2 separate regions of the Homo sapiens genome follow, and region 1 is linked to region 2. Evidence: fine-mapped expression QTL. A gene starts in region 2. The other region holds a variant in brackets. All regions are shown on one strand. Distances are from middle to middle. Region 1 has its middle 64 kb from the start of CD28. Region 2 holds the start of ABI2 (abl interactor 2).

Region 1 (2,900 bases), 310 kb before region 2:
ATTTACCAAGTGTGTGTGAATTTGAGCAAACTTACCCTTTTTTTTTTTTGGAGACGGAGTCTCACTGTGTCGCCCAGGCTGGAGTGCAGTGGCGCCATCTCAGCTCACTGCAAGCTCTGCCTCCCGGGTTCACAAGATTCTCCTGCCTCAGCCTCCTGAGTAGCTGGTACTACAGGCGCCCGCCACCACGCCCGGCTAATTTTTTGTATTTTCAGTAGAGACGGGTTCTCACCGTGTTAGCCAGGATGGTCTCGATCTCCTTGAGAGGTGACAGCGTGCTGGTAGTCCTCACAGCCCTCGCTCACTCTCGGCGCCTCCTCTGCCTGGGCTCCCAATTTGGTGGCACTTGAGGAGCCCTTCAGCCCGCCACTGCACTGTTGGAGCCCCTTTCTGGGCTGGCCAAGGCCAGAGCCGGCTCCCTCAGCTTGCGGGGAGGTGTGGAGGGAGAGGCACGAGCGGGAACCGGGCTGCGTGCGGTACTTGCGGGCCGGCGCGAGTTCCAGGTGGGTGTGGGCTCCACGGGCCCCGCACTCGGAGCGGTCGGCCGGCACCGCCGCCCCGGCAGTGAGAGGCTTAGCACTTGGGCCAGCAGCTGCTGTGCTCAATTTCTCGCCGGGCCTTAGCTGCCTTCCCGTGGGGCAGGGCTCGGGACATGCAGCCCACCATGCCTGAGCCTCCCCCCCGCCCCCTCCGTGGGCTCCTGTGTGGCCCGAGCCTCCCCGACGAGCGCTGCCCCCTGCTCCACGGCGCCCAGTCCCATCGACCACCCAAGGGCTGAGGAGTGCGGGCACACTGCAGCGCCAGACTGGCAGGCAGCTCCATCTGCGCCCTGGTGCGGGATCCATTGGGTGAAGCCAGCTGGGCTCCTGAGTCCGGTGGGGACTTGGAGAACCTTTATGTCTAGCTCAGGGATTGTAAATACACCAATCGGCACTCTGTATCTAGCTCAAGGTTTGTAAACACACCAATCAGCACCCTGTGTCTAGCTCAGAGTTTGTGAATGCACCAAATGGACACTCTGTATCTAGCTACTCTGGTGGGGACTTGGAGAACTTTTATGTATAGCTAAGGGATTGTAAATACACCAGTCAGCACCCTGTGTCTAGCTCAGGGTTTGTGAATGCACCAATCGACACTCTGTATCTAGCTACTCTGGTAGGAACTTGGAGAACCTTTGTGTCCACACTCTGTATCTAGCTAACCTAGTGGGGAGGTGGAGAACCTTTGTGTCTAGCTCAGGGATTGTAAACTGCACCAATCAGCACCCTGTCAAAACAGACCACTTGGCTCTCTGTAAAATGGACCAATCAGCAGGATGTGGGTGGGGCCAGATAAGAGAATAAAAGCAGGCTGCCCTAGTCAGCAGTGGCAACCTGCTGGGGTCCTCTTCCACCCTGTGGAAGCTTTGTTCTTTCACTCTTTGCAATAAATCCTGCTGCCGCTCACTCTTTGGGTCCACACTGCCTTTATGAGCTGTAACA[G/C]TCGTCGCGAAGGTCTGCAGCTTCACTCCTGAAGCCAGCGAGGCCACAGACCCACCGGGAGGAACGAACAACTCCAGACGCGCCGCCATAAGAGCTGTAACACTCACCACAAAGGTCCGCAGCTTGACTTCTGAGCCAGCGAGAGCACGAACCCACCGGAAAGAAGAAACTCCGAACACATCCGAACATCAGAAGGAACAAACTCCGGACACGCCGCCTTTAAGAACTGTAACACTCACCGCGAGGGTCCACGGCTTCATTCTTGAAGTCATTGAGACCAAGAACCCACCAATTCCGGACACATCCTGAACTCCTGATCCGCCCACTTCAGCCTCCCAAAGTGCTGGGATTACAGGCGGGAGCCACCGCGCCTGGCCACCCTTTTTATATTTTCTCGTCTACAAAAAATGGAATATGAATATCCACTCCTTCAAACTATGAAACTACTACAAGAAAAAATCAGAAAAATTTCCAGGACATTGGTCTGGGCAAAAATTCCTTGAGCAAAAACTCATAAAAGCACAGGCAACCAAAGCAAAAAATGGACAAACGGGATTACATCAAGGTAAAAAGCTTCTGCACAGCAAAGGAAACAATCAACAAAGTGAAGAGACAACCCACAGAATGGGAGAAAATATTTGCAAACTACCCATCCGACAAGGGATTAATAACCCGTATATATAAGAAGCTGAAACAACTCTATAGGAAAAAATCTAATCCAATCAAAAATAGGCAAAATATTTGAACAGACATTTTTCAAAAGAAGACATATAAATGGCAAACAGGAACAGGAAAAGGTGCAACAACACTGATCATCAGAGAAATGCAAATCAAAACTACAAGGAGATATAGCACCCCAGTTAAAATGGCTTATATACAAAAGACAGGCAGTAACAAATGCTGGTGAGGACGTGGAGAAAACGGAGCCCTCATACACTGTGTACAACCACTATGGAGAAAAGTTTGGAGGTTTCTCAAAAAACTAAAAATTGAGCTACCATATGATCCAGCAATCCCAGTGCTGAATATATACCCAAAAGAAAGGAAATCGGAGCCAAGCGTGGTGGCTCACGCCTGTAATCCCAGCACTTTGGGAGGCCGAGGCGGGCAGATCACGAGGTCGGGAGATCGAGACCATCCTGGCTAACACGGTGAAACCCCATCTCTACTAAAAATACAAAAAATTAGCCAGGCGTGGTGGCGGGTGCTGGGACTCCCGAGTAGTCCCAGCTACTCGGGAGGCTGACGCAGGAGAATGGCATGAACCCGGGAGGCGGAGCTTGCAGTGAGCTGAAATCGTGTCACTGTACTCCAGCCTGGGAGACAGAGTGAGACTCCTTCTCAAAAAAAAAAAAAAAAAAAAAAGGAAATCGGTATATCAAAGAGATATGTTTGTTGCAGCACTGTTCACAATAGCCA
Region 2 (2,900 bases):
CATTTCCATCTTTATCCCAAGAGAATTTAAACGGGAAAGAAAAAAAATGGAGGCAGAACCCATAATTCAAAATAACCATAAAAAAAAAAGCAAAAGATTTTAGATTTTGCAAACTGTGCCTTTTAACCTGCTATCCTTTCAAGTAATTTTTAAAGAAGGATTTTTTTAATCCACAGAATATTTTGCTTCATCCAGGAGCAGCTGGATCTCATACCATCCGGTATCCCCCGCCTCCATACACACGCCCCTACCACTATCAGCCCTTGAGCCAAACGATCCATCACGGTAAAAAAAAAAAAAAAAAAAAAAAATTAAACCAGGAGGTTCATCTTCCCAATTCTCTCTAAGAAACAGTCATAGTCTGTCCTCCTCCCACCCCCAGGAAAACTGCCTATTCTAACAGAACTAGGAGGGAGGGGGGAATCAGCTCATCATCCTTCTCCATAGGGAAAAAAATGGCATTAACTTCCAACAAGAAACTGCTGCTCTTCTACCGTATCCCCTTTAGAACATAAAATATTAAGAAAGGGTTTCTGAAGCATTCACAGGAACAGAAAACTGAAGCCTGAAGCACTTCACTCTGCAGCAAGATAACCCCTTAAAAATCATCCAGAATTTGGGGGATGGAGGTAACCCGTCAACACCCGCGACACCCCTACCCTAAGGTGGGGAGCAGGATTCCGTCAAACAGAAAATGCCACTCTCCGCCCCCTCCGCCATCCGGAACGCTGACCGGCGCGGAGTGCGGGGGCGGCCGAGGGCGGGAGCGGCGAGGAGGCGGGACGCGACACACGCACCACGCCGAGAACTGCTTCACCGCTTTTTTAAAGGTTTTTAAAATGCAGTTTCTCCAGCCGGAGAATTCCCACCCATTCACCAGCCCCAGCCCTCACCCAGCTCCCCACCCCCATCGGGGGCTCCGCTGGGCCGTGTCCCCGAGGCGGCCTCGGCCCCACGCCCCGAGGCGCGCGGCCCCCGGCGGGGGGGTCCCCGACGCGGCCCAGCTGGGGATGCTTCGCACCTGTATGTAGTTGTTCTCGCAGTAATCGGCCACCCGTTCCAGATTTGTGTAGCTGTCGAAGAGGGCCCGGCGGCCCCCCGGGATTTCCTCTTCCAGCAGCATCTGCAGCTCCGCCATCTTCACATCCTCCTCCTCCTCCTCCTCATACAGGTCGCAGAGGGAGCGGCGGCCGCAGCGCCAAGGAAACCCAGGACCGGGAGAGGAGGAGCGGCGGCGACGGCGGCGGTAACTCGGAAGGAGCGAGAAACAGCCCCAGCGCGCGACAGGGGAGGGGGCGACGGGGGCGGGGCGCGAGCCGACGGACTCCGAGGACGGTCACCGCGGCGACGGCCGGCCGGGCGCGCGCACGCGCGCTCCCTTCCCTCCGCCCCCGGGAGCCCGAAAAAGATTCCCACCCTCGCCCGCGCCGCCGGCCCCTCCCCCACTTCCGGCGTCTCCTAGCGACGGCGGGGGTAGGGGCCGGGATGCGCGCGGGAGTTGGTGGTGCAGTTAACCCTTCCGCCGCCCGCCCGCCGCTGGAGCGGCTGGAGAAGCCCCCACCTCCCGGCGGCCTTTGTTAGCCCGGCGGGAACACACCACCCTGCTCAGCTGGCTTCCTGCCGGCTCCCTCCGGGACTCATCTCGGCTCCGTCCCCATGGAGGTCATCGGCCTAGGGAACTTCTCGAGGCTTTTCTCCCTCTGCTGCTGACGGGAGGCCGAAGGAGGGCACAGCCTCCACTCTTGGGACCCTCCTCTGTGAAAGATCACACCTCAACAGGGCAGGAATAAAACTTCCACGCAGCTTTCAATGCCACCTGACTTCATTTTTCTCAGATTTGACCTCATCCTCTTTGTTGCAGTGAATTGCAGTTTCCTAACCCCAGCTTTCCTGCGCCCCTGCCTCTTTGCACTTCCCCACTAACGCTGTTCTCCCCTGCCAGATTAGCCCCTTTCTCTCCTGGTTTGCGGTGCCGTGGGCCTCAGCTTTTTATGTTTGCCATTTCTATGATTCGCTTCCTCACTCATAACCTTTTCTGTCATTTCTCTAATGCTATCAACTTCGCTGTCCTTTTTCCTATTCATGGATTCAGTATTTAAAATTTTGAAAACGATTTTGCTAGTAGTAATTGCCTTCTTCACAGGGCTGTTACATAGATAAAATCAACGTTTATTGTGAAAATACCTTGAAAAAACATTAAGTGCTACAAAAATTCAAGGCAGATAATTTTCCTCTTGCAGAGTTATAATTCTGTTTTTATTCTCCAGATACTGTGTCTTGTTTTCCTAAATCAGACTACCCCACACAATGTAATCTGGAAAAACTAAAACTCCTGACCATTGCTGAGATATGAAGCCATGACCTTTATTTGTGCTGTGGAAAATCAAAGTTGATTCCAGGCAGTACCATCTTAGACTTGTGTAGTTAGAACAAGATCCATTGTTTCAACACTTTTCTTAATCTGGTGATCTCTTGGCCCTCCTACAGTGAATTTTTTTCATTCAGATGATGAGGAAACTTATACTTTCAAAAAAAAATCACTTTAGGACGGGCGCGGTGGTTCACGCCTGTAATCCCAGCACTTTGGGAGGCCGAGGCGGGCGGATCACGAGGTCAGGAGATCGAGACCATCCTGGCTAACACAGTGAAAACCCGTCTCTACTAAAAATAAAAATAAAAAAATTAGCTGGGCATGGTGGCGGGCGCCTGTAGTCCCAGCTACTCGGGAAGCTGAGGCAGAAGAATGGCGTCATCCTGGGAGAAGAGCTTGCAGTGAGCGGAGATCGTGCCACTGCACTCCAGCCTGGGCGACAGAGCGAGACTCCGTCTCAAAAAAAAAAAAAATCACTTTAATACCATATCATTACAAATATCTGGAGCAAACCCTAATGTTATATTGG

What was found. PIP is the estimated chance that this variant, and not a neighbour inherited with it, causes the effect.
Region 1: its variant is fine-mapped to the expression of ABI2 in whole blood (TOPMed, PIP 0.99).

What each region holds. Positions count from the first base shown.
Region 1 is chr2:203,640,753-203,643,652 of GRCh38, reverse strand. No RefSeq gene overlaps it. Among named protein-coding and RNA genes, the nearest start is that of CD28, 64 kb to the left of the region's middle. The variant G/C (reference allele first, on the strand shown) is at 1,482.
Region 2 is chr2:203,326,753-203,329,652 of GRCh38, reverse strand. It overlaps ABI2 (abl interactor 2), which reads right to left and starts at 1,259. Exons shown (of 12, transcript NM_001375670.1): 1 at 1,022-1,259. The coding sequence starts at 1,138. RefSeq lists silencers at 691-1,040, 1,317-1,504, 1,261-1,600 and an enhancer at 1,402-2,372.